5 separate regions of the Homo sapiens genome follow, and all the other regions are reported to be linked to region 3. The links are microRNA targets in miRTarBase. Many come from high-throughput screens and were not tested one by one. Region 3 holds a microRNA gene; each other region holds the end of a gene's coding sequence.

Region 1 (4,814 bases), not on the chromosome of region 3:
CCACAAGGGTCTCTCCTGTGACTTCTGGCTTCCCGAGGGCAGAGGCTGGGATGGGCATGTGGCGGCTGGCACCCAGGAGGCTCCGCCAGGTCCACGCCAAGCCAGCCTGGCTCAGCTCTGGCTTCCTGCTCACACGCTGGATGCCTGTCCCCAGGCCTCCTGACAGGGCTCTGCAGCATTGGAGAGGCTTGTGGTGGGGCCCTCGCTGTAGAACAGGCACTGCCAGTGCTCACTGACTCCTCATTGCAGCCAGGGCAGGGGCGCTCCCACCACCTCGGTTTCAGTCAGGAAGCTGGGGGGTGCTGGGATCTGCCAGCAGCTCTGTGTGCTCCCCAGGTGGGCTGCCCGGGGCCCTGGCTCTCTGGCTTCTACACCAGTGCCCCTGCGAAGCCTCAGCGCCCAAGGTCTTTGCAAGCCCTGTTCCTGCATCTCTGGAGAGGGCTGCTCCAGGTGTGGGCCTGGCCAGGGCTTCCAGACCAGTCCAGGCACTGCACCTGCACATTGACCCCCTTCTCCACTCTCTCTCATCCTTCAGTAGCCACAAAGCTGGCAGCAGGGTACTCGCAGATTTGTGAGGAGAGCCGAGCCCTTGCTGACTGTCCTCCCGTGCACGGCAGAGTGAGGCGGGGCTCCTGGCCTCCTTAGGGGCTGCCCGCTCTGGGCCACACAGCCAGAGAAACACTGTCCATCTGGCTGGCTTGGCCTGTGGGGTGCAAAAGAGGTGTTTTCACTTTGCTTTGGAAACATGGAAATTACCAAGTGACTTAACCATAACACCAAATGATGATTTTTAAATTTATGAAAATTATGGAACCAGATGGGACACAGGGAAACGAGAACGATACTGAAAAGGTCTGAGTCCTGTGGGGGGTCCAGGTCCCGCAAGACAGCTAATCAGGTGCCCCTGTCTGTTATTCGGGTAAATGTAGCAGCTGGGTCCAGGCTCGGGCAGAGCAGCTTTCTACAGCAGGGGTGTCCGCCCTCTCCCGGGGTTCCCACGGGGTTCCCAGGGGCCCCTTACTCTGCCACGATGTGGGAGTTCCACCACCACAGGGACTTGAGCGGCAGCTCCGGCTCTTACGTAGAAACGCGCAACTCCAGTCCCTAGGTTGTGTCCGAGGTTGCTATGGTGCCATCCCATCTTGCCGCTCACTCTGCGACTGTGCGGAGAAACGCAAGTGCCCCCGAAGGGTGGGCGTGGCCTCTGATGAATGCACACGTTGGTGGGAGGTGGCTTCCGTTTGTACGAAGCGCCTCTTCACGCGAGCGTTCACCTCGGTCTCCCCTTTGCTTGGTCCAGTTCCAGAAACGCCGCTGGACTGCGAGGTCTCCCTGTGGTCGTCCTGGGGACTGTGCGGAGGCCACTGTGGGAGGCTCGGGACCAAGAGCAGGACTCGCTACGTCCGGGTCCAGCCCGCCAACAACGGGAGCCCCTGCCCCGAGCTCGAAGAAGAGGCTGAGTGCGTCCCTGATAACTGCGTCTAAGACCAGAGCCCCGCAGCCCCTGGGGCCCCCCGGAGCCATGGGGTGTCGGGGGCTCCTGTGCAGGCTCATGCTGCAGGCGGCCGAGGGCACAGGGGGTTTCGCGCTGCTCCTGACCGCGGTGAGGCCGCGCCGACCATCTCTGCACTGAAGGGCCCTCTGGTGGCCGGCACGGGCATTGGGAAACAGCCTCCTCCTTTCCCAACCTTGCTTCTTAGGGGCCCCCGTGTCCCGTCTGCTCTCAGCCTCCTCCTCCTGCAGGATAAAGTCATCCCCAAGGCTCCAGCTACTCTAAATTATGTCTCCTTATAAGTTATTGCTGCTCCAGGAGATTGTCCTTCATCGTCCAGGGGCCTGGCTCCCACGTGGTTGCAGATACCTCAGACCTGGTGCTCTAGGCTGTGCTGAGCCCACTCTCCCGAGGGCGCATCCAAGCGGGGGCCACTTGAGAAGTGAATAAATGGGGCGGTTTCGGAAGCGTCAGTGTTTCCATGTTATGGATCTCTCTGCGTTTGAATAAAGACTATCTCTGTTGCTCACAAATGTCCCTGGCTGTCCCCACACTTGTTCTGGGCCCCGTGCAGTGCAGGGACCCGTGGTGTGCGCTAATTGGGGACACACATTCAGAAGGCGCCTGGTGCTGCCGTCAGGGCCATGAGGCACGTGCTCTGTGTGTGTGTGGGAGGCAGGCCTGAGACCTACAGATCTCCCCACAACAGACGCCACCCCTGGCCCATACAGGATTTCAGAAGACACAGCAAATGGCATGTCAGATGCATCCACAAACCCGGCAGGCACGCGCCTGCCCACAGGACGATCAGAAGCTCAGACAAGGGGCACCTTGAGATCCGGACGAGGCCCCAGAAGCCCTCACTCTGCCCCCTCCTCTGTGGGAGCAGCTTGCATTGCTGCTGTTCATGGGGGGGCCACTGACCACCAAGACCCTCGCAGCCCATCAGGCCACCAGCAGACACCTCCTGAGACCTGAGCTCAGAGGCCCCAACCTCAAAGATGTCCTCAGGGGCTCACTGTAATCTGTCGTGGCCCTTTCTGCAGCAGGGGTCCCCAGGCCTCCCCACCAGTGCCACTCACCTGGTGGAACCCCAGGGCCCTCTCAGTGCCTGGGCGGGAGCTCTGTGTGGTTTGAGGATGGAGATGCTTGGGGGATGGCTGCTTCTTCAGTCCTCTCCCAGTGACTGGAAGGTGGGGGCTCACTTCTCTCACCGAGGCCTGGTAGACGACCCTTCCTCGTAACTGTCTAAGGCCCTCCAGCCCTGATGCTTCTAGAACCAGACCCCAGGCCCAGCTCCCACCACCCTGCACGCCATCCCCGCCCACCATCCTTGAAAACAATGAACTAAGCCCAAGCTCACGGGCGCATGAGCTCTGAGGTGACGTGGAGATCTGAAAAACCCCTGGCTTAAAGTTTTCTTAAGGTTCCTGGGACTGACAATGCCAGGAGGCCCCTGAAAGAATGGCCGTAAATCCTGTGTAGAGATCACACTGTGTACTTGGAACTCAAGAGGATCCCCAGGAACATGAACCCACAATCAGAACCCATAAAACGCACAGAACACCAGCCTTGATGCTCCTGAGTCAGAGCACATGGCAAACTCCACGGTCAGAGCCACCGGGCCGCTGGGGCTGGCATGACCAGGAGAAGATGCTGACCGAGTTAACCTCGCCAGGAGCTCTAAACTCAAAGACACCAGAGCAGCACAATGGGGTGGTGCATTGAAGCCTCGACAGACGGACACAACACTCCAGTCAAAGGGCAGAGACTGCAAGAGCAGACTCACAGAACCATGCGCTACTGTGGAGCCTGTGAAGTCCTGTAGGATCACTGAAAGGCTGGGGAAGGGGTTGTGGTGCAGACTCCTGCAGACACCTGGATCCACCTGCCCTCCCTCCTGGAGCATGGAGCTGGGGGTCCCTGGGGTAGGACAGGCGTCACTTTGGGGCCAGAACATTTACTGCCCAGGTGAGAGGCTATTGTGCTTTCCTGGCCTCAGGGACCCCAGGGCATGTGTTGACGTGGGTGCCATCACTGAAGTCTCTGGGGCCCCAGGGCATGTGTTGATGTGGGTGCCATCACAGAAGTCTCCAGGGCCCCAGGGCATGTGTTGACGTGGGTGCCATCACAGAAGTCTCTGGGGCCCCAGGGCATGTGTTGACGTGGGTGCCATCACAGAAGTCTCTGGGGCCCCCACGCCACTAGGACGGCCACTGTTGTGCTGAGGCATTGAGATTTGAAGGAGACCAATGGGGAACGCCATCCGGTAATGGAATGCTGTGTGAGGAATCCCACAGGGGCCGCCTGGCCGGAGGGTGGATCAGACAGGACCTATGTGGCTGCCCTCTCCTGAATGAGGTGGGGAGCACGGGAAGGCGCAGAGTGCAGAAACAGCACTGCATCAGTGGCCGCCATCTTGACAGCAGTGAGTAGTGGGTATAGACAGGAAAATGGAGAGGAGAAGCCCCTGCAATAGTCCCAAAAGAGAGAGGTTTGGGCCTCAGAGACACCCGTGGACATGGGAAGAAATGGATGAGTCTGGGTTTGTTTTGATGAAAACGCAACGTGAATACTTACAGACCTGCGTTTAACATGCCTCCCAGAGATACCCAAGCAGTTGACCCCATCCCAGTTTCAGGAAGGCCTTGTCCCAACTGGGTCAGCATGGGGAGCCAGGGGGGCAGTGAGCAAGTGAGGGCAAGTTCACACCTGAGGGACCCATTCGTGGTCTGTAGCCCCCTGCACACTGTGCTGCCACAGGTGGACGGGGGGCACCTGGGCCAGAAGGAGGGGCTCCACAACTACACTGAGACTGCATGCCCCTCATATTAGTGGGATGTGGATACGCTGGGCTCCAGGGTGCTGCTGGGCCTACAGGGTGAGGGTTGGTCCAGCCCACTGTGCTGAGAAGTGGTCGGCAGTCCACAGTGTCCGAGCCATAGGAGGATAATCATGGAATGGCCCACTGTGCTCAGCAACAACACACAGGCCATGGGGACTGGGGCTGAGGGGTCTGTGGCACTGGGGGAGGAAGACAAAGGGTAGAACATGGAGAAGCGATGGGCAGGGAGTTCCTGGCAAAGATGGTAGGCTGAGGAACTGAGCACTGACACCTAACTCCACTCCCACCATACTCCATTGGAGCTGTAGAAGAGGGTGTGTGGATGGCACAATCCAGACGCCTACCTTGGCACTCTCAGGGGACACCCTCCACCCACAGAATGGCGAAACGGGATGGATACAGCTCTGAGACACTGCCCCTTTCATAAGATGCAGGGAGGACTCCACTTTCTACCCCCACTTCTAAAAATAAGTAAAC
Region 2 (4,814 bases), not on the chromosome of region 3:
GACAATGAGGCACCATTGTCACTTATTGACTCCTCAGCTCTAAATGCTGAAATTAAATCTTGTCATGACAAGTCTGGAATTCCTGATGAGGTTTTACAAAGTATTTTGGATCAATACTCCAACAAATCAGAAAGCCAGAAAGAGGATCCTTTCAATATTGCAGAACCACGAGTGGATTTACACACCTCAGGAGAACACTCAGAATTGGTTCAAGAAGAAAATTTGAGCCCAGGCACCCAAACACCTTCAAATGATAAAGCAAGTATGTTGCAAGAATACTCCAAATACCTCCAACAGGCTTTTGAAAAATCCACTAATGCAAGTTTTACTCTTGGACACGGTTTCCAATTTGTCAGTTTGTCTTCACCTCTCCACAACCACACTTTGTTTCCAGAAAAACAAATATACACTACGTCTCCTTTGGAGTGTGGTTTCGGCCAATCTGTTACCTCAGTGTTGCCATCTTCATTGCCAAAGCCTCCTTTTGGGATGTTGTTTGGATCTCAGCCAGGTCTTTATTTGTCTGCTTTGGATGCTACACATCAGCAGTTGACACCTTCCCAGGAGCTGGATGATCTGATAGATTCTCAGAAGAACTTAGAGACTTCATCAGCCTTCCAGTCCTCATCTCAGAAATTGACTAGCCAGAAGGAACAGAAAAACTTAGAGTCTTCAACAGGCTTTCAGATTCCATCTCAGGAGTTAGCTAGCCAGATAGATCCTCAGAAAGACATAGAGCCTAGAACAACGTATCAGATTGAGAACTTTGCACAAGCGTTTGGTTCTCAGTTTAAGTCGGGCAGCAGGGTGCCAATGACCTTTATCACTAACTCTAATGGAGAAGTGGACCATAGAGTAAGGACTTCAGTGTCAGATTTCTCAGGGTATACAAATATGATGTCTGATGTAAGTGAGCCATGTAGTACAAGAGTAAAGACACCCACCAGCCAGAGTTACAGGTAAGGTCCCAAAAGTGGCCAGGCTGGAGGTCTTCTAATGTAATTTTGTTTTATTTTGAGAACACTGCCATTGGAATGTTTCTACACGATCCTATTAAGAATAATGTGATGCCCTTTCAATGCAACTTTTCATATTTAGTTTATTTTGTTAGCGTGATTTTAGCTCTGTTTGTATTATGATTTTTAATCAAAATCAATAGATTAAAAATAGTTTGACATTCAAAGTGACAATGTTTAGCAATCAAATTTACATGTATAGATCGTCAGGGAATAGCCCAAATGTTTTAAACGCAAAAAAAAAGACAAAAAAAAACCAAAAAAAAAAAACCTACAAAAAAAACTTTGTTGCTAGGATTAAGGTTATTCTAATTGCTTTACTCTCAGGAAAGTGTAATAACGCATGGGAATTCTGTACGTTATCACTGTAATGGAATATCCAATTTACAGATAGTATGATATACATTTCATCATTTAAGTAAGGGATCGAAAACATTTCAAATTGCTCTATCTGGGCTGATAGACATTTCGTCATTTAAGTAAGGGATCGAAGACATTTCAAATTGCTATCTCCATCTGGGCTGATCCAAAATTCTGAGATTGTTGGCTACCTATATTTTGTTGCAGCTTTTAAATGTACTCTGAACTTCCAAACCACATTCATTCCAGCCTGGTAGAACAAATATTCTTGGATCTTTGATCAAAGCCTGGAATGATAGCTTTAATAAAAGAAGGAAAAAAAAAAAGCACCCTCTCTTGATCTCAACTGTAACAAGGCTGTAATTCCATCAAGCGATTCTACTGACATCTAGTACAGTGTTGAAGCCCAAGTGGTTGGCTGGTTCCAGTATTAGAACTCAAGTTGAAATTATATGATTAACTGAAATTTGGGGCATGCATTATTTATTATACATGGCCTACAACGGTTCTGTCTGCGCTGTTACGTATTACCTACACTTCTGGGTTTTTTTGTTCTTGTTCTCAGCCTCTCTTTAAGAGTTCTTGGGCCTTCCTTTTCCCTCTTTCTATTTTAACAGTTTTAATTTTAGAACCATTTACATTCCAGTAGGTAATTCACTATGCGCTTTATATGCCTTAGGGCATCCAAATAAAAAACAATAGGGTAAACATCCCCAAAACCCACCTTTAAAAAAAAAAAAACCCATACAGATTTCCATATGTAATAAAACCCCGTGTTCTTGGATAGATATTAATAAGGTTGTAATTCCAACTGGTGACATAACTCCTGTGAGGGATAAGAATGTGTCTGCTTATAGTAATAACATCAGAACCTCTTTGTGAAATTGCGGCCTTTAATGTACATTTTAATGAAAGGGTGCATTAGTATTGTACAGGGGTCTTGTAAAGTCATCAAAACTTGCTATGAACTCTAATTGCCATTTGAAGCTACTGATTGGCAGTGGCTCTACTCTAAAACTGCTTTTTAGCAATTGTATTTTTTTCCTGATTATATTTTTTAATGTACTTTGATGTTTATGCTGATGAGTTTTTTATGTACTTTTGGTGATGTTTCAGTCTTATGTACTCTTCTGACGTCAGAAAAGTACCACTGGTTGTTTGCAGTCTTATTGTGTAATCAGCCTACCGCAGGCTTCCATGTATAATAAAGTAATTAATATTGTGCAAGTGTAAAACACTTCTGTTATAAAAGCAGTGTTTGGAAAATAAGAAATATTAAAAATGGTTACAAAGTATTAGTTAATTTCCTTTTCCCACTTTCCTCCCTTTAGCTTTAGCAGCTAAAGGGTCACCAACTTGTCATTGCAAGATTCTTAGAAAATGTACTTAATCTTAAATACGCTGAGTACTAAAAAGTGTTTATTTCTTATTTCAGTAAGTGCGGTAAGTTCTATTGAGTACAGAGTACAAGCTGTAATCAAAGGATGGAGAGGACCTTTACCACTGTATCTCTTAAGCTGTATGATTTTTCTCCAGTTTGTTTTATACAGGTTTTGAATTTCTTTAACTTTTATTGTGTGTACTGAATACTGCATATGTATTATTCTGATTGTTTGCTCTAGTTTACTACCAATAAAAGTCCTGTTAATCACAAGATTGAAGAAAGGAGATATTACTTAATATCCAGTAACGTTTTTCAGAATTTTCTATTAACATTTTCTAAAATATTCACATCCGTGGTATAACCTGCAGTTTAGAGGCTTGTATTTTAATTGTATTTTTTTAACTTAGGTATTTTGTGTTTCTAGGTTTATTTTAGTTGAAAATGGACTCAAGGCCGGGAGTGGTGGCTCACGCCTGTAATCCTAGCACTTCGGGAGGCCAAGGCGGGTGGATTGCCTGAGCTCAGGAGCTCGAGACCAGTCTGGGTAACACAGTGAAACCCCGTCTCTACTAAAATACAAAAAATCAGCTGGGTGGGGCGGCGTGTGCCTGTAGTCCCAGCTACTCAGGAGGCTGAGGCAGGATAATTGCTTGAACCCAGAAGGTGGGGAGGTTGCAGTGAGCCAAGATTGTGCCACTGCACTCCAGCCTGGGCGACAGAGCAAGACTCCGTTTCAAAAAAAAAAAAAAGGATTCAAATTTATATAATACTAAATTTTTGTTCTTCCATATTGCTATGCACCTAAAACATATTCAATGTTCATAAAATATTCAGTTTTATGACATTATGAAAACATTCAACATTTTATGAACATTGAATACTTTATGAACGTTGAATATGTTTTAGGTGCATAATATGGAAGAATAGAAATTTAATATTATATAAATCAATGTTTTCTTGAAATTGGGTTAGCCATCCTAATATTACTCCAGAGAAATTATTTATTGAGGCTTTATTTTAAATCAGATTCCAATATCTTCTGGTTTTAGGTGCATCCTTTTTTGCCTCAAAAATGTTGTAATATCCTGTGGCACCAGTTTTGGGAAAAAAAACTTTTTACTTAAAAAGTTGTAATAAAGTGACAGTATGATTTAGATTACAACAGTCTTGAGCATTTTAGTTAGGATGAAGGTATTATTAAATCAGCAATGTTTTAAAATGTTGAGAGTATAAGTATTAGAAGGAAAGAGCTAAACCTATAAATAATGGAGATGCAGAAACTGAAAATTAGTAAATATGTAATATATTAGTAAACTTATAAGTATGAAGGGAAAAAGTAGATCATAAGACATTTGTGTTTTGAAATTTAGTGGCTACAGTGTTGAGGAATTGGGAATAAATATATTAAAGGGTAGAATAGGTCTTTGAGGCTTTGTTTTCTTTTTAGTATATGATAGTATTACAGGAAATCATAAAGATATTAAGTATAAGCATGGATTTCTCTGTAGAGATTATCTGTACTGGCGAGTCTGTGATTAGGAAATGTCAGTTTTTGTTTGTTTTGCCCAAGTGTATTTCCTAGATTTGGTCTTTTTCTTGAACAAGAGTGCTAAGCAGAATCTCTGATTCTATATTGAAATCCAATTTTTGATTTCTTTGCACAGGTGACTTATTCTCTATTCTAGATTAGCCCTAACAGATTGATTTTTTTTTTTAACCCATCCACCTGCCTTTATTTCTTCTGTGGAATGTCTGTCTCTGAATATGATCATTTTAAAATTAAGGTTTTTTTTTACTTTTAAGAAGTTAAGGTATGAAGTAGGAAACAATGCTTTTGGATTTCTGTTGTGCTACTGGAAATTCAGAATAAGGACTACCATAATTTAGCAATTGCTGGTCAGTATTTTTGAGGTAATTTAAAAATGGGAACAGTGGAAAAACATCTATAATTTTTAGCATGTTTTTAAAAAGTTGCAAACTGATACAAATATTTCTACTTTAGTTTTCCGTATTATGCTCATCAGATGAGAGAGGCAAAAGTTTGTATTCATTCC
Region 3 (4,814 bases):
AACACAAGCAGTAAAAAGCAATTTCTATACCAAGGAAATAATAATGGTGATAATCCAGATCACATAGAAATTAAATCTACTTTCCTAAACAGTAAAACCAGCTAGCTTTGCATGTGTTCATACCATATGATTAATATTAAAGCATAAGGCAACCGGCCGGGCGCGGTGGCTCAAGCCTGTAATCCCAGCACTTTGGGAGGCTGAGGTGGGCGGATCACGAGGTCAGGAAATCAAGACCATCCTGGCTAACACGGTGAAAACCCGTCTCTACTAAAAATACAAAAAAAAAAAAAATTAGCCGGGCATTGTGGCGGGCGCCTGTAGTCCCAGCTACTCGGGAGGCTGAGGCAGGAGAATGGCGTGAACCTGGGAGGTGGAGTTTGCAGTGAGCCGAGATCTCACCACTGCACTCCAGCCTGGGCGATAGAGCGAGACTCCGTCTCCAAAAGAAAAAAAAAAAAAAAAAAAAGCATAAGGCAGACACTACCAGCACTGCACCCTCATTAGCCAGCCAGCTTTGCAGACTCACCACCCCCACAGGCTGTCCTGGAGGTTCCTACGCCTGCAGTGGGAGCTAAGAGGTCAGCTGTTGCCCCAGAGCCGACCCCAGTAACCTTTGCAGCTTCCCTGAGGGCTTCAGGGACCTGCACCCTGTTTAGTGGGCACAGAGAAAATGGCTCATGTCCTGGAAATACCCAGCCTGGCTCCATTGGGCTGTAAGTAGTTCCTGGCAAAATTCCTCATTAGGTAACAATTTGGATGGTGGTGGAGATGTGTCCCTCCTACTTTACCCAAGAGGTGGTAGCGGTGTGGCCTGTGGGAATTTTGAGGGCAGCGGGCAAAAGTCATTCCAGTCCCAGGGCTCAGCTCCAGCAGCGCCCAGGGGCATCTCAGAAGCAGCTACATCATCATCTGTACCACCCCACGCCCTGTGCTTGTTTAGGGCTGAGATCCTATTGGGAGGCATTTGGGGAGGAGGTGAGCTGCGCTGGCAGAAGGTTCAGGGCCGGTCACTGGGGATTTTCCTGCCACTCACATCCCCTTCTTTCAAGTCTTCTTTAACTCTGCACAGATGGGAGTAACAGAAGATGCTGGTTTCCACCTCATCATTTTTTACCTTCTCACCCCCAGAAATTAATCTTCGCATAAACCTCAGGACCAGCACAATGCCTGTCTCAATAAAATGTTAGTTTCCTTTCCTTCTGTATCTCCTGCCTTCCCCTTCCTGGCCACCTAAGACACAGGGCCGTTATGTTGCGGTGCCCTACTTCGCAGCACCCCCAGACCTGCCCAGGGCTGCTCCCCATGCCAGAACCCTCCCTGTCCCCTAAGAACCTGACTATCCTTTGTTTCATTCCCTAAAAGCCTTACTTTTCAAGGCTGAGGCTGCAGCATCCTTTATACTGGTATACACTTTCATGTTTACAAGTGTCATTGGGCATCTACTGGTACTCATCTTAGTTACCCTTGTAACAGAGCCCTTAGATGTCAAACCAAAGCAGTGACTGACACTGAGATTTGTGGCTGCCTGGGTAGGTAGAGAAGAGAGAGAGAGTAGAGTTGACCATGTTTCTCAGCTCACAAGTTCCTATGATGGCTTGGAACCCTGACCAGCATTTTCTTCTGAAGCAACACCCTCGTGGTATGTTCAGCCTTTTTCTAGATCTCTCCAAGACAGAGAAATACTTGTTGCTCCTGCATTGAGGTTGGGCAGATGGGCATTACTGGGGCACTAGTGGCCAAGTTGCCCTGATCCACCCACCTGAGACCAGGTATGTGTGTGGTGGTGCAAGCCACTGCTTTTTCAGGCTGGTGCTGCTGGATGAGAAAGTCCCAAAGTTCTATCATTGAAGGAGCAGCACAAGAGTGAGGACAAATACCTTCACAGGCAGCAAGAAAGTGGTACACAGCAGGGAGGGCAGTGGGCACCTGGGGGAAGAGCAAGGCCCGAGGAGTGAGGGGAAGCAGGCCAACCTCGACGATCTCCTCAGCACCTGAACGCCAAGGCTGGGGAGATCCTCGAGGTTGGCCTGCTTTCCCTCCTTTTCTTACAACTTCTGGAGAAGCGTCAGCCCTCTGCAGGGAGGCGGCCAAGCTGGCAGGCGAGTCGGCGAGGGTGTCATTGCTTATATGGCTGCGGGGACCGAAGCTAGGAATAGACGCGCTGAGGGCTAGGAGGGCTCCGACCGGACGGAAGGATGCCGCATCGCGGGTCGCTGCCCGGAGCTGTGCGAGTTCGGTGCTCAGCCCCAACGGCGCTTTAGGCGGGTCCCCTAGGTTCTCGCCCTTGCGCGCGCAGCCAGGACAGTGTTTCTGCGCTTCCTGAGGCCAAAGCGGGTCTCCCCGTTTTTTCCTCTGGGGATGCCAAAAGCCACTGGAAAAGACAGGAAGCTGTCGCCCCGTCGCATTCTCAGCAAGATGAGGCCGAGTAGGCAGCGCCACCTCTCCCGAGCGCCCGCGCCCCGCTGCCCCAGCCGGGGAGGGACTGGAGGTGAAGTCGCAGGTGCGCTCCCCAGGGAATATCCGGGCTCGCAGACCACGCGGCACCGCCCCCGCCTCGCCCCGCTGCTCCTCCTCCCCCATTCCAGGTGTCTCCTTTTCCGCTTGCCCCTTAAACGTCCCCCTTCCGCAGGGGTCCTGCGAACCCCATCCACTGCCATGGCTCATTCTAACACCTTCACTGGGTGTCTTTTTGCATAACACTTAAAATAAAAATGGATCTGAATCTGATCCCGGCTTCCAGCTTACAGGACATGTCGAGGACAGAGGCACAAGTGAAAGTCCACCCAAGGAATGCAGTCAGCAAAGCCACGGTGTGGGGAGCTCTCTCCAGAGGGTAGGGGAGAAACCCAAAGAGTAAAAGAGACTTTAAAACCTGCCAACCAATCCCAACCTGATGTCCTAATTTGAATCCTGATTCAAATCAACTGCTTTTAATGGAAACTTAAAACTTTAGTGGAAATTTGAACCTGACTTGATATTTGATATAAGAAACCATAGTTAATTTTTTAAGGCATGATAATGGCATTGTGCTTATTTTTAAAGGATAGAGTCCTTATTTTTAGAAATTCAGACTGAAATATTTATGTCTGGAATTAGCTTCAAAATAACGCAGGGAGAAGTGGGTAAGGGTTGGGATGGAACAAGGTTGGCTATGATTTGATCGTTGTTGAGGCTGGGTAATGAAAACATGGGAGTTCGTTCTAGAATTATTTCTACTCTTGTATATTTTTAAAATTCTCTATAATAAGGTTTTAAAAAGAAGGAGAAAAAAAAATGGATATATTCCAGCTGATTAGTCTCAACGTTTTCAGGGCCACATACAAGTAGGGCCCTGAAAATATGTTAATTATGTGACTTAAGATCACCTGGGAGTCCTTTTCGTTACTGACTTGTGCGACTTGTGTGGCTCGTGTGCTCTCATGCTTAATTGGATTGGTCTTTAATCTGGGGCCAGGGAAGTGTTTGACCTGTGGCTGAGATTTCCACCTCTCTGCACTTCCCTTCCTGAACACCAACCAAAAGTGGCCCTGGGTTTCTAACCACCTGAAGATGACTTTCCATCTCCTCCAATGTCCTATGTCTAAAACTGTACAGCCTTATGCACTACCTCCTAACTTCCCCATTTCTATGAATAGCAGAGCATTTCCTCTGCCTCTGTCACAGACTAGAAGCCATCTAGCCATTTTGACTTCCCCCTCCTCTTTTCTCTGTCCCTCCACTTAGTCACCAAGTTCTGTGGATTCCTTGTTCACTGTTTCTCAGACTCATCTCTTCCTCTCCACTCTCACTGCTGTTGTCTAATCCCAGATGTGGATTTTCTCTGTTACATTTACTTCCTCACTGGTTTCCTGTCCTTAGATTCCTCCTTCCAGCGATCCCACCTGCCACTGCCCATTGGAGAGCCCTTAGATCAAGGGCCTCATGTTATGATTAGGCTTTGCAAACTCCAAATTCCTTCTTTTACAACCTCAAAAATTTCATTCAAAGAAAGCAGGAATGATTATCAGGCAGCCAGCAACCCCACCCCTCAAATAGAGTCTAACGTGAAAAACATTATTTCTCAATTGGTAAGCAAACACATCCCTCACTGATTGTTGGTAGGTCAACAACGGCCCAGACTTGGACAGCTGACAAGCAGAACCCAGGGTCACAAGGATCCCATTCATGTGGGTCAACAGACAAATGAAAGAGCTCAAATGACAGAACAGTCCAGAGATTCCTGCTGATTTTTCTAGCGTGCTCTAAAATGGAGCAATACACCAGGTTTCTAAACCATGGACACAAGACGTGACAAATGACTTTCAGATATGTGAATTCATTCATTCAGATGAAATTTACAAAAGCATACAATAATGTCATTTTTAGTTATACACTTAAAATCATCTTTATTAAGAAAAAAATACATTAAATAAAATTAGGACCATACAGGAAAATTCAGTCTGTCAGGTCACCAGGGCCAAATACACAGTCTCAAAATGCTTGGAATGAAAACAATATTTCTCTGATGCCCCCAAACAGACATTTATTATTTTGTCAGCCTAGATTAGCACTCCCTTTTTGGAGCTGGGATTTTATCCTCCCCAGGCCAACCATAAGCATCTCTCGGGGCATGGGAATGTTTCCCTAGAATTTTCTAGTTGGCTTGGTGAATAAGTGTCCTCTTTCCTCTCTGCAGGAAATTAAGGATGCAGACACTCAGGGCGTGTGTCTTGCACAGCCAGCCAGCCTGGGAAAATGAAGCCAACTGGGAGAGAGATTTGAAGGACTCTGGTTCTAGGCATGCGCACTTCTCCAGGTACTTGAGCTTGGAA
Region 4 (4,795 bases), not on the chromosome of region 3:
TTTCCCCGGCTATAAGAAAGCTAGACCAGGGTGCGCATTCTTCCCGTGCCTAGGATACTTCACGGTGCTAAAAATAGTCCTGGGAGCTGGGACCTGTGTATAGCCAGAGGTTTGTGTGTGAGCGAAGTTGGAGTCCTGGGTTCGAATCTAGATAAGCTTCCCTCCGTGCTGTGGGGCTTAGATCACCTCCCTCCCTGAGTCTGTTTCTCCATGCGCGCCGGAATTTCTAAACGGACTCCCAGAAAGAAACGGAAAGAAAGAAGGTAAAGAAAAGAAAAACAAAACAACAAGAAAGAAACTTTGATTTTTCTCTCTGCTCCTCCCCAAGGGCCCTGGGGCCTCGGGCCGGGTACTGAGGCCGAGGAAGGGGTGCGTCGGACAGGCTCATTACCGCCAAGTGTTGCCCTAGTTAAATCGCGGGCCTGTTTGATCTGGCGGCGGGTGGCGAGAGGGAAAAAAGAAAAAAGTAGGGGGGCGAGAGTAGAGAGAGAAGCTCACACCTCCCCCACTGTTTCCTAGCGCCCATAAAACACCTTTTATTAACTCCTTCGCGTCCGGAAAGGCCCGCGTGGCCTCTCGGCCCCTGCTACGGTGTTTACAGCCAAGACTAATGGGGTCCCATATTCACCCCGACGCTGGGACAAGGCGCCTGGGGCACGCCTGGTGCCCCACGAGGCCCTGCCCCGGAGCTGCCTGAGGTCTCCTTTCTTGTTCCCAAGCCGAGCGCTCAGGCTCCAGGTGCGCAGAGCGAAAGTTCCAAGACAGCCTCACGGGTCTCCCCTCCTCCTTCGCAGTGAGCGCCGCAGACCCTCAGGCGCTGCAGAGCGTGCGCTCCGTGGGGCAACCATGGGAGCTGTTGGGAGACACAGAAGTGCTTAGCGCAGTGCCTAGCACACAGTTGCACGCAACCAAAGTATTCGTACATTATTATTCCTGGAAGTATAAACCACTGCGTTTGCCCGCCCCAGTTTAGCCCAATACGCATCCAAGATCCTTGGCAAATGCACCGAATTTATACCCACCACACCTAGTCATGGGTGCGCATGAGAGAACACAAAGACTGGCTCTCCTGCACAAGTGCCCGAATGAGCACGCATACACACATACACCCCATCCCTTTGCACAAATCCATATGCTCTCACAACCTTCTGTCGAGTGCTTCGTTGCTAAAGAGAAACCTAAATACCTCAATTTAACATATAAGCACTCACAAGCTTATTTTACTCAGGTATAAAATAATAATAGCTGCTGTGACTTGTCAAGTCCTTACTGTGTGCTTGGAGCTGTACTAAGCAGACCCTTGTTGGCCCCTGCACAGCCTCAGGCTCCGTATGAGTTGCTGCACTGTCACATGTACATCTATATGTTGAGAATTTCACATACATGAACATATTCCCCACCAACACCCCCTCTCCTGAGCTACCCTGCCCCAGGGATAGGATTCACCTGTGTGCTAGGCCCCCTTCCCTCCCAATAAACACTCCAAACCACTCTTTGCAGACACCAGTGGGCATACTAACCTCCAGACAAGCACGAATACTCAACGCACAAAAACCCGAGCCCAGGCCCTCTGAGACTAATTCGTTTCCGTTTTTGTTCTTCCCCGTTCCCATAAGTTACCCCCACCTCCCGTTCTAGTCTAAAGAGAACTTTGCTCTTGTTCTTGAAATACATTCTTTATCTGCCGGCTTCCCTTGATTTCAAGTTTGGTTTCGTGTTTATCAAAAGAAGAGGAGCAGGAACAGAGGCTTTCCACCTAGCAGAAGCCATGGGAGTCGGTGAGGGACCCCGGTTGAGACATGACACAGGCTTCAGATGATTTCAGAAAATGTTTTATTAATCAAGAGCATAGACACTGCTTTGGCGAAGGGAGGGGGGCTGTGAGTGGTCACACAGACTTGAGGTAGAAAAGGGTTGGGGATGGCAGGATGAACAAACACCTGAGCACAACAGGCATGGTAGGTAGTTTAAATACATAAAAACTTTCCAACACAGGGAAAGCTTTTATTTAGATAGAAACAAAAAGGAAGGAAAAGAAGGAAGAAAAGAGAGAGACAGAGAAAGAGAGAAAGTGTTTCCCTTGGAACTAAACAGGAAGTGCAGCGACAAAAAGAAAAATAAAATAAAACCACCACGATTCGAAGAACAAAGGGCAGCCTTTCATCTTCCTGCGTCTGGTTCTCTTTCTCAGGCAGAAAAGAATTGATTCCTTATTGCATTTTAATTAGAGAAGACGGCGTCGGGGCGGATCATATGGAGGGACAAGAGAGAAAGAGCCAGATAGGGAAATGGAGATAGGGCTGAGGTTCTAAATTCGCTCCAAAAGGGTGGAAGAGTGCGTCTTTGAGCCCTTGGGTTCGACAGTCCCTCCTTCTTGCATGTTGCCGCCAAGGGCCGCCCTCGGTTGGGCTGGGGGTGGATATATATATATTTCTCTTTCTCTTAATGTATTAAAAAAAATCAAAGGACATTGCACGTGCGATCCAAGTGTGTGGTTGCAGCCGACGACCTGCCGGCGCTCAGCAGAAGCTCCGCGGGATGCGTAGCACCAGTCGCCGGAGCCCAGAGCCTGGCGTTCGCCGCTGCCTTCCTCTCCTCCCGGGGCTTCAGGAGTGGCTGGCCTGGCCAGGTCCTCGGCGCGGGCCTCGGCTCACTGGTTTAACTCCAGCGCCCAGACTTGCTGCGGCCAGCCGGTGCGTCCTTTAATCCTCTTCTCGACTGGGCCCAGGGCAGGAGGAAAACCTTCGTGCTGCTGCTGCCAAAGGACACACAGAAGAAAAGAGGCGGGAGAGACAGGTTTTAATTTTTCTGCTCCGATCGCCCGGCATGGGGTAAGATGAGGAGGAGGGGAAGGTGTCGGGAGCAGTAACTGGGAGTCTTTAAATAAGTGACGGATTTCTGTTTGCGAAATAGGCAAACAGGCTCGTAAATTTGCCTTTATGCGCGGAGTTCCTGGGACCCGGGATGGGCTGGGCAGCTTCGGGAGGTTTGGTAAGGAAAATGTTCTGCGTCTGGTGAAACTGACGCGCGTTGATTTGGCTTTAGGACACCTAAGGGAGATCCCAGGATATTGGAAGGGAGGGGTGGAAATCCACGGTTCTCCCGCTCTCGCTGCACCCCACACACTTCCGCCAGCCTCCCAACCTGGTTTAAACATCAGGGCTTGGATGCAGGCTTGGGGCCCCCTAAGCCGGAGCTGGGAGCCTCAGATACGGAGGTAAAAGAGCGGGGAGTCGAGCTGGCCTAGCGTCCTCCTTCCCGCTCTTTCAGCAGGAACCAAGCGGTGCTACTTGAAGGAGGCGGCGACGCGTGGGGGCCGGGATCCGCCCAATAACAACTTCTTTCGAGGCGCCGCACCTCGAAAGAAGCCGGCCTGCACCATCCCCAGTCCGGGGCAGCCGTTTAGAGACTCGATGCCTATTTATCTTTCCCTCGTCCCTGGATGAGCTTTCGTCAGTTTACCACAGGCCCCCGCAGGTTGGATAAACCAGGTGGGGCGCTTCAGCTGGCTCCACTCCGCTACGGCCTTAAGCCCCCCAACCTAGAGAAACTGATTGGCCAGCCTGAAAACCCAGCGCTCAGAAGCCCCCAGCCCCGGACAGCCAGACCGAGTGCCAGGAAGTGTCACCCTAACCGGAGAGGATCAAGAAGGCCAAGACGAGACTGCGCTCTCCAAAGCTAAAAGAAGTGGCTCTTATTTACATGCAAAGCCACTGAAGTCGTCCTCAGAACCAGTCCATGGGGAGAACCAGAACTGGCCCTGGACTGAGTAGAAGACCCGATCTGTTTTACCTCACCTCCACCCTGGACTCCTCAGATAGGTGCTTTTCCTGCCCCGACCCACTCTGGGCCCTCAGTTTCCCTATTTATACAATGATGGAAGTAGACTAGCCGGTCCAGCAAAGGCCCTTTGAAAACAGGAACCGAGCCCGGGCACATAAATTCAAACTCAAAGTAAAGAACTTTAACACATATTCTTAACCTGGCTTCCAGGAGAGCCCAGGAATGAATCAGGACTTCTCCAAATTGGAAGCAAAACCTGTGGTGTGTGCATTTTTGGAGGGTCCGAGGCTCCAAACAGATTATTCACTCAGTATTACAAACACTCTCCCGTATTACAAATGAATTCTATGACGAATCTGCCTCCCTCCATGCACAGGATCGCACGCTGTGACCAACCATCTCAGAACTCTTCCCAACCTTTCCAAATCGGACACAGGACAACACAGCCTCCTTCGACTACCTGCATGGCCTGAGGCTGCTCACCGCTCCTGCACCCTTGGCTGGAGCATGCAAGCCCCAGGACTCACCAGCTCCCTTTTCCGCTTGCTCTCACGGCCGCCATCCGCCTTCTTGAGTTCAGCCTTGAAGGCCTCGGGATCGCCAGACTGTGCATCCTTGGCCAGCACGTCCATCAGGTAGGCGATGTAGCTGGTGGCTAGGCGCAGAGTCTTGATCTTGGAGAGCTTGGTGTCGGCCGGCACGTTGGGGATGCACTCGCGCAACTCCGCGAATGCGCTGTTAATGCTCTCAGTGCGTCTCCGCTCCTTCTTGGGTCCTGAGCCTTTCCGCCGGCCAAGACGGCCGCCAAGCGCCTCCAGCCGCCCGGGGCTCTGCCCAGGCCTGGCGTCAGGACCATAGGCGGTGGCGGCTGCAGCGGCCGCGGGCGGCGGCCCGCCCGCAGGGAAGTCCGGGGCAGCGTCAGCCGGGCTCAGCAGCCAGCTCTGGAAGTAGGGCCTTTCCTGATGACAGCGCGAGGCCGGACCGAAGAGGAAGGGTTCGTGGAGCATGGGGT
Region 5 (4,814 bases), not on the chromosome of region 3:
GCCAGAGGGGCCAATCGCTGTTAACCCTACCCTCCCTGGTGCCTCCCCACAGGGGCAGCCACACCACAGTGGGCGTCGGCGGACGGCTTGAGGGGTTGACCCAGGACCTCCGACAGCTGCAGGAGAGCGAGCAGCAGCTGGACCACCTGATGAATATCTGTACTACGCAGCTGCGCCTGCTCTCCGAGGACACTGACAGCCAGCGATATCCTTGGATTGGCCGTAGGGTGTGGAAGGCAGGCTTAGCAGGCAGGGGCTCCACCCAAGTGGGACTAGAGAGGCTTGGATTTAAGAGAGAGCTCTGATTTTGGTTGCAAGTCCTGGCTCAGCATTTTCTCACTGTTGTGACACTGGATAAATTGCTTAACCTCTTGGCCTCAGTTTTATCTATAAAAGGGGAATAATAATATCCAATTCTGAAATTGTACAGATTAAAAAAGAAAAGTGGCTAGGTGCGGTGGTTCATGCCTGTAATCCTAGTGCTTCAAGAGGCTGAGGTGGGAGGATCACTTGAGCCCAGGAGTTTGAGGCTGCAGTGAGCTCTGGTTGAGCCACATCACTCCAGCCTGGGTGACATAGCGAGACCCTGCCTCTAAAAAATAAATTCCCAGCACCAGGCCTGGAGTTGTGTTGAACATTTTACATGGAATCGTTCCCGGTAGCCATTATTACCTTGGGATTCAATGGGTAGAGTGATTTCATTATACAGATGTGGAACTTGAAACTCAGGCGTGAGGTAGGTTTTGAGTGGGTAGGAGGTTGGGAGGACAGGAGTGACTAGGCAGGTGTGAGCCCTGCCTTGTGAGCTGTTGGAGTGAGTGACCCCCTAGAAGTCAAAGGTCATGTGGTCCTTGACTCTGCCAACCCTGGCCTACGTGACGTGTCAGGACCTTCGTAGCATTGCAGACCCTGCAGAGCAGATGGTTATGGTGATCAAAGCCCCTCCTGAGACCCAGCTCCAAGCCGTGGACTCTTCGGAGGTGAGATCTGGGAACTCCGGGCCCAACTGGGCTGGGCTGGGCTGGGCTGGTGGTCACCTGGGCCTCAGTTTACCCTGCCTGCTGCTTCCACCCAGAACTTTCAGATCTCCCTTAAGAGCAAACAAGGCCCGATCGATGTTTTCCTGTGCCCTGAGGAGACCGTAGGTGGGATCAGCCCTGGGAAGACCCCATCCCAGGAGGTCACTTCTGAGGAGGAGAACAGGGCCACTGACTCTGCCACCATAGTGTCACCACCACCATCATCTCCCCCCTCATCCCTCACCACAGATCCCAGCCAGTCTCTACTCAGCCTGGAGCAAGGTGGGTGATGGGTAGGTGGGTGGGGTGGGGCAGGGCCCCTCTTCTGGGGGGTGGGCAGGCACGACAGCCCCTGCCTTCCTCCCTGCTGGGGCATCCCCGGCCTGTGATGCTCCCCGTCTCCCCAGAACCGCTGTTGTCCCGGATGGGCAGCCTGCGGGCTCCCGTGGACGAGGACCGCCTGTCCCCGCTGGTGGCGGCCGACTCGCTCCTGGAGCATGTGCGGGAGGACTTCTCCGGCCTCCTCCCTGAGGAGTTCATCAGCCTTTCCCCACCCCACGAGGCCCTCGACTACCACTTCGGCCTCGAGGAGGGCGAGGGCATCAGAGACCTCTTCGACTGTGACTTTGGGGACCTCACCCCCCTGGATTTCTGACAGGGCTTGGAGGGACCAGGGTTTCCAGAGATGCTCACCTTGTCTCTGCAGCCCTGGAGCCCCCTGTCCCTGGCCGTCCTCCCAGCCTGTTTGGAAACATTTAATTTATACCCCTCTCCTCTGTCTCCAGAAGCTTCTAGCTCTGGGGTCTGGCTACCGCTAGGAGGCTGAGCAAGCCAGGAAGGGAAGGAGTCTGTGTGGTGTGTATGTGCATGCAGCCTACACCCACACGTGTGTACCGGGGGTGAATGTGTGTGAGCATGTGTGTGTGCATGTACCGGGGAATGAAGGTGAACATACACCTCTGTGTGTGCACTGCAGACACGCCCCAGTGTGTCCACATGTGTGTGCATGAGTCCATGTGTGCGCGTGGGGGGGCTCTAACTGCACTTTCGGCCCTTTTGCTCTGGGGGTCCCACAAGGCCCAGGGCAGTGCCTGCTCCCAGAATCTGGTGCTCTGACCAGGCCAGGTGGGGAGGCTTTGGCTGGCTGGGCGTGTAGGACGGTGAGAGCACTTCTGTCTTAAAGGTTTTTTCTGATTGAAGCTTTAATGGAGCGTTATTTATTTATCGAGGCCTCTTTGGTGAGCCTGGGGAATCAGCAAAGGGGAGGAGGGGTGTGGGGTTGATACCCCAACTCCCTCTACCCTTGAGCAAGGGCAGGGGTCCCTGAGCTGTTCTTCTGCCCCATACTGAAGGAACTGAGGCCTGGGTGATTTATTTATTGGGAAAGTGAGGGAGGGAGACAGACTGACTGACAGCCATGGGTGGTCAGATGGTGGGGTGGGCCCTCTCCAGGGGGCCAGTTCAGGGCCCCAGCTGCCCCCCAGGATGGATATGAGATGGGAGAGGTGAGTGGGGGACCTTCACTGATGTGGGCAGGAGGGGTGGTGAAGGCCTCCCCCAGCCCAGACCCTGTGGTCCCTCCTGCAGTGTCTGAAGCGCCTGCCTCCCCACTGCTCTGCCCCACCCTCCAATCTGCACTTTGATTTGCTTCCTAACAGCTCTGTTCCCTCCTGCTTTGGTTTTAATAAATATTTTGATGACGTTTGGGCCGGGTTTTGGGACTCTGTTGGGAACATTTCGGGGCGGGAGAGGCCAAGGTTGCTGGGGAAATGCCCATTCTCCACTTCCCTTCTCCCTGTCCGTGCCCGATTTGATTTGAGCCTCATAACTCGAAGAAAGGTCAGCTTCCTCGCTGTTTTGGTCCTAACTCAAAAGCAGATCCAGTAAAGGTTTTTGTTGTAGAAAGCCAAGAATGCTATTCAGTGCTGCCCGAAGTGCAGAGTAATGAGTGGCCTCTCCTTTCCCCAGCCCCAGAGGCCACTCTGCTCAGTTTGCTGTCTTCCTTCCAGACGTTTCTGGACATTAGTAAACATGTAACAAATACAGTGGGCTGGTTCTGTGTCAGGTATTTAACAGTTCTGGGGACACGGGTGTTACCTCCTTTCATGGTGCTCTCAGGGTCTGAAAGAGGAGATCTGCATAAATGAGAAAATCGGGAAAGGCGTTCTGGAATGGGTGGTGCTTAAGCTGAGCGCTGTAAAATAAGTAGGAGTTAACCAGAGGAAGAAAACACCAAGCAGAGGACACGATGGGCAAAGGCCTTGGGCAGGAGGGAGCGGGATAGAGGACCGGAGAGAAAGCAGTGTGGCTGCGGTCCTGAGGTGAGGGTCAGAGTGGTGCTCCTGGAGTGGGGCGTTCAGTCTTAAGCTTTATTCAGGGGCCAAGGAGTCACTGGAGACCGAAGTGACACCTCCTCTTTCGCATCTTAAAAGCTCCCCCCGGCTGCTGTGTGGAGAACGGGTTGAAGGGAGGGCCAGAGTCACGGAGGGGAGGGGAAAGGGCTGCGCTTAGTGCCAGAGAGGGCGGGCGTCGGGATGCCTGGGATTCGGCCGCACGGACCTGTGGGCTTCCTCTGCGCCAGCCCCCGTTGTAAGCACTTGACATTGAATGAGTCCCAACAATTGCATAGGGTGTCTGCCAGTACCATTTTTGTAGATGAGGATACAGACGCCCCAAAAGGTGAAGTCCTGGTGGGTTTTACCCACTTGTGTCACCCTGACCTCGGCACTGGCTTGGTCATCCTGTCCCTCTGGGTAGGCCCGCAGCCCCTAGGTTCTGCTCCCGACAGGCCGTCGCGGGACCGGAGCCCTCGGGCGCCTCCCCCTCCGCCGTGGCCGCGGAAGCGCGGAGGCCCGCGGCGCTGGAGTTGGACCTTGAGGCGAGGGAACCCGGCGTCCGCGGGGGCGGGGCGGGGGCGGGGCCTGAGCCCGCGCGTCGGCGCCGGCGCCAAGGGGCGGCCTCTAGCCACACCGAGTCCGCCGCGGCGTCCAGGGTCGGCAGCAACCGCAGCCGAGCCCGAGCGGGTGGCGGCGCCATGGCGTGCGCGGGGCTGCTCACCGTGTGCCTGCTCCGGCCGCCCGCGCCCCAGCCCCAGCCCCAGACCCCGCGGCACCCCCAGCTCGCGCCCGACCCGGGGCCCGCCGGACACACGCTCTTCCAGGACGTGAGTGGGCGCGGGCTCTGCTCGCGGTGTCTCCCTACCCGAGTCTCTGTTAGTCTCACCCTCCGGGGTTGTTCGGGCCCCGCCGCTGTTTCTGGGTCTCTTCCCCTCTCTCTGGCCCTGCTGTTTTCTCTTGACCTTTCTGCCCTTGTGTGACCTGTTCTGTCTCTCCATGTCTCCTCTTGTCCCTGCTCCAGTGTCACTGCCCCTGCTGCCTCCCACCCCTCAGCCCACCCCATTTGTGTGTCTGGTGTTGGCGGGGGGCTGGCGACAATCACAGCAGCGGTCACCCCACTCTGTGGCAGCTCCAGGCTGGGCTGACTGGGGAAGGGGAGCCTGGAAACGCAAGGGCCCCTCACTCCTGACTCTAGTGCCGCCCCCAGAGTTCTTCAGGCCCCACTCCAGGGCAGCAGAGTCCTACAGTTGGTAAGGGCTGCTCAGAGTCACCCTCCCATGGGGCCATGGGTGGCCCTGCGGCCACCATGGGCACCAGCCACGGCCCTGAGCCCTTTCTCCACCGTTCACCGCTGTGCTCGGCTCTGTCCTGGCCCCCTCATGCCCCAACTCCAGAGGGAGGCAAAGCTGTCTCCCACCCCCTCCCCACTGCCCCTAGTGACTCAGCACCTTGACCACAG

What was found. The annotated mature microRNA hsa-miR-3150a-3p reads CUGGGGAGAUCCUCGAGGUUGG and lies in region 3 at 2,008-2,029, shown strand. An mRNA with a match to its seed (bases 2 to 7 or 8) in the 3' UTR can be bound and repressed. Matches are read on the target gene's strand: a 7mer-m8 pairs with bases 2 to 8, a 7mer-A1 pairs with bases 2 to 7 and ends in A, and an 8mer does both.
Region 1: miRTarBase lists SPON2 as a target of hsa-miR-3150a-3p. Seed matches in the 3' UTR shown: 7mer-A1 at 1,754-1,760.
Region 2: miRTarBase lists ZNF281 as a target of hsa-miR-3150a-3p. Seed matches in the 3' UTR shown: 7mer-A1 at 2,087-2,093.
Region 4: the mRNA of HAND1 is a reported target of hsa-miR-3150a-3p. Seed matches in the 3' UTR shown: 7mer-A1 at 1,915-1,921.
Region 5: miRTarBase lists E2F1 as a target of hsa-miR-3150a-3p. Seed matches in the 3' UTR shown: 7mer-m8 at 2,623-2,629.

What each region holds. Positions count from the first base shown.
Region 1 is chr4:1,164,143-1,168,956 of GRCh38, reverse strand. It overlaps SPON2 (spondin 2), which reads left to right. Exons shown (of 6, transcript NM_012445.4): 6 at 1,301-2,025. The coding sequence ends at 1,485. All of the region lies in intron 1 of LOC124900647 (nascent polypeptide-associated complex subunit alpha, muscle-specific form-like), which reads right to left. Among named protein-coding and RNA genes, the nearest start is that of SPON2, 6.0 kb to the left of the region's middle. RefSeq lists a silencer at 1,537-1,820 and an enhancer at 1,647-1,896.
Region 2 is chr1:200,403,167-200,407,980 of GRCh38, reverse strand. ZNF281 (zinc finger protein 281) reads left to right here. Exons shown (of 2, transcript NM_001281293.2): 2 at 1-3,030. The coding sequence ends at 963. Among named protein-coding and RNA genes, the nearest start is that of ZNF281, 4.5 kb to the left of the region's middle.
Region 3 is chr8:95,070,955-95,075,768 of GRCh38, forward strand. It overlaps MIR3150A (microRNA 3150a), which reads left to right and starts at 1,960; the gene lies at 1,960-2,039. It overlaps MIR3150BHG (MIR3150B host gene), which reads right to left and starts at 2,228. Exons shown (of 2, transcript NR_132986.1): 1 at 1,975-2,228. It overlaps MIR3150B (microRNA 3150b), which reads right to left and starts at 2,042; the gene lies at 1,957-2,042. LOC124901980 (a long non-coding RNA gene) reads right to left here and starts at 1,299. Exons shown (of 2, transcript XR_007061013.1): 1 at 792-1,299. It also overlaps a transcript of NDUFAF6 not described here. RefSeq lists a silencer at 2,435-2,534.
Region 4 is chr5:154,473,156-154,477,950 of GRCh38, forward strand. It overlaps HAND1 (heart and neural crest derivatives expressed 1), which reads right to left. Exons shown (of 2, transcript NM_004821.3): 1 at 4,311-4,795; 2 at 1,817-2,755. The coding sequence ends at 2,651. Among named protein-coding and RNA genes, the nearest start is that of HAND1, 2.7 kb to the right of the region's middle. RefSeq lists enhancers at 1-249, 250-1,221, 2,892-3,746 and a silencer at 2,550-2,737.
Region 5 is chr20:33,673,592-33,678,405 of GRCh38, reverse strand. It overlaps E2F1 (E2F transcription factor 1), which reads left to right. Exons shown (of 7, transcript NM_005225.3): 4 at 53-205; 5 at 866-980; 6 at 1,076-1,301; 7 at 1,427-2,929. The coding sequence ends at 1,674. It overlaps NECAB3 (N-terminal EF-hand calcium binding protein 3), which reads left to right and starts at 3,978. Exons shown (of 12, transcript NM_031232.4): 1 at 3,978-4,182. The coding sequence starts at 4,054. RefSeq lists enhancers at 2,951-3,451, 4,122-4,669, 4,670-4,814 and a silencer at 3,638-4,267.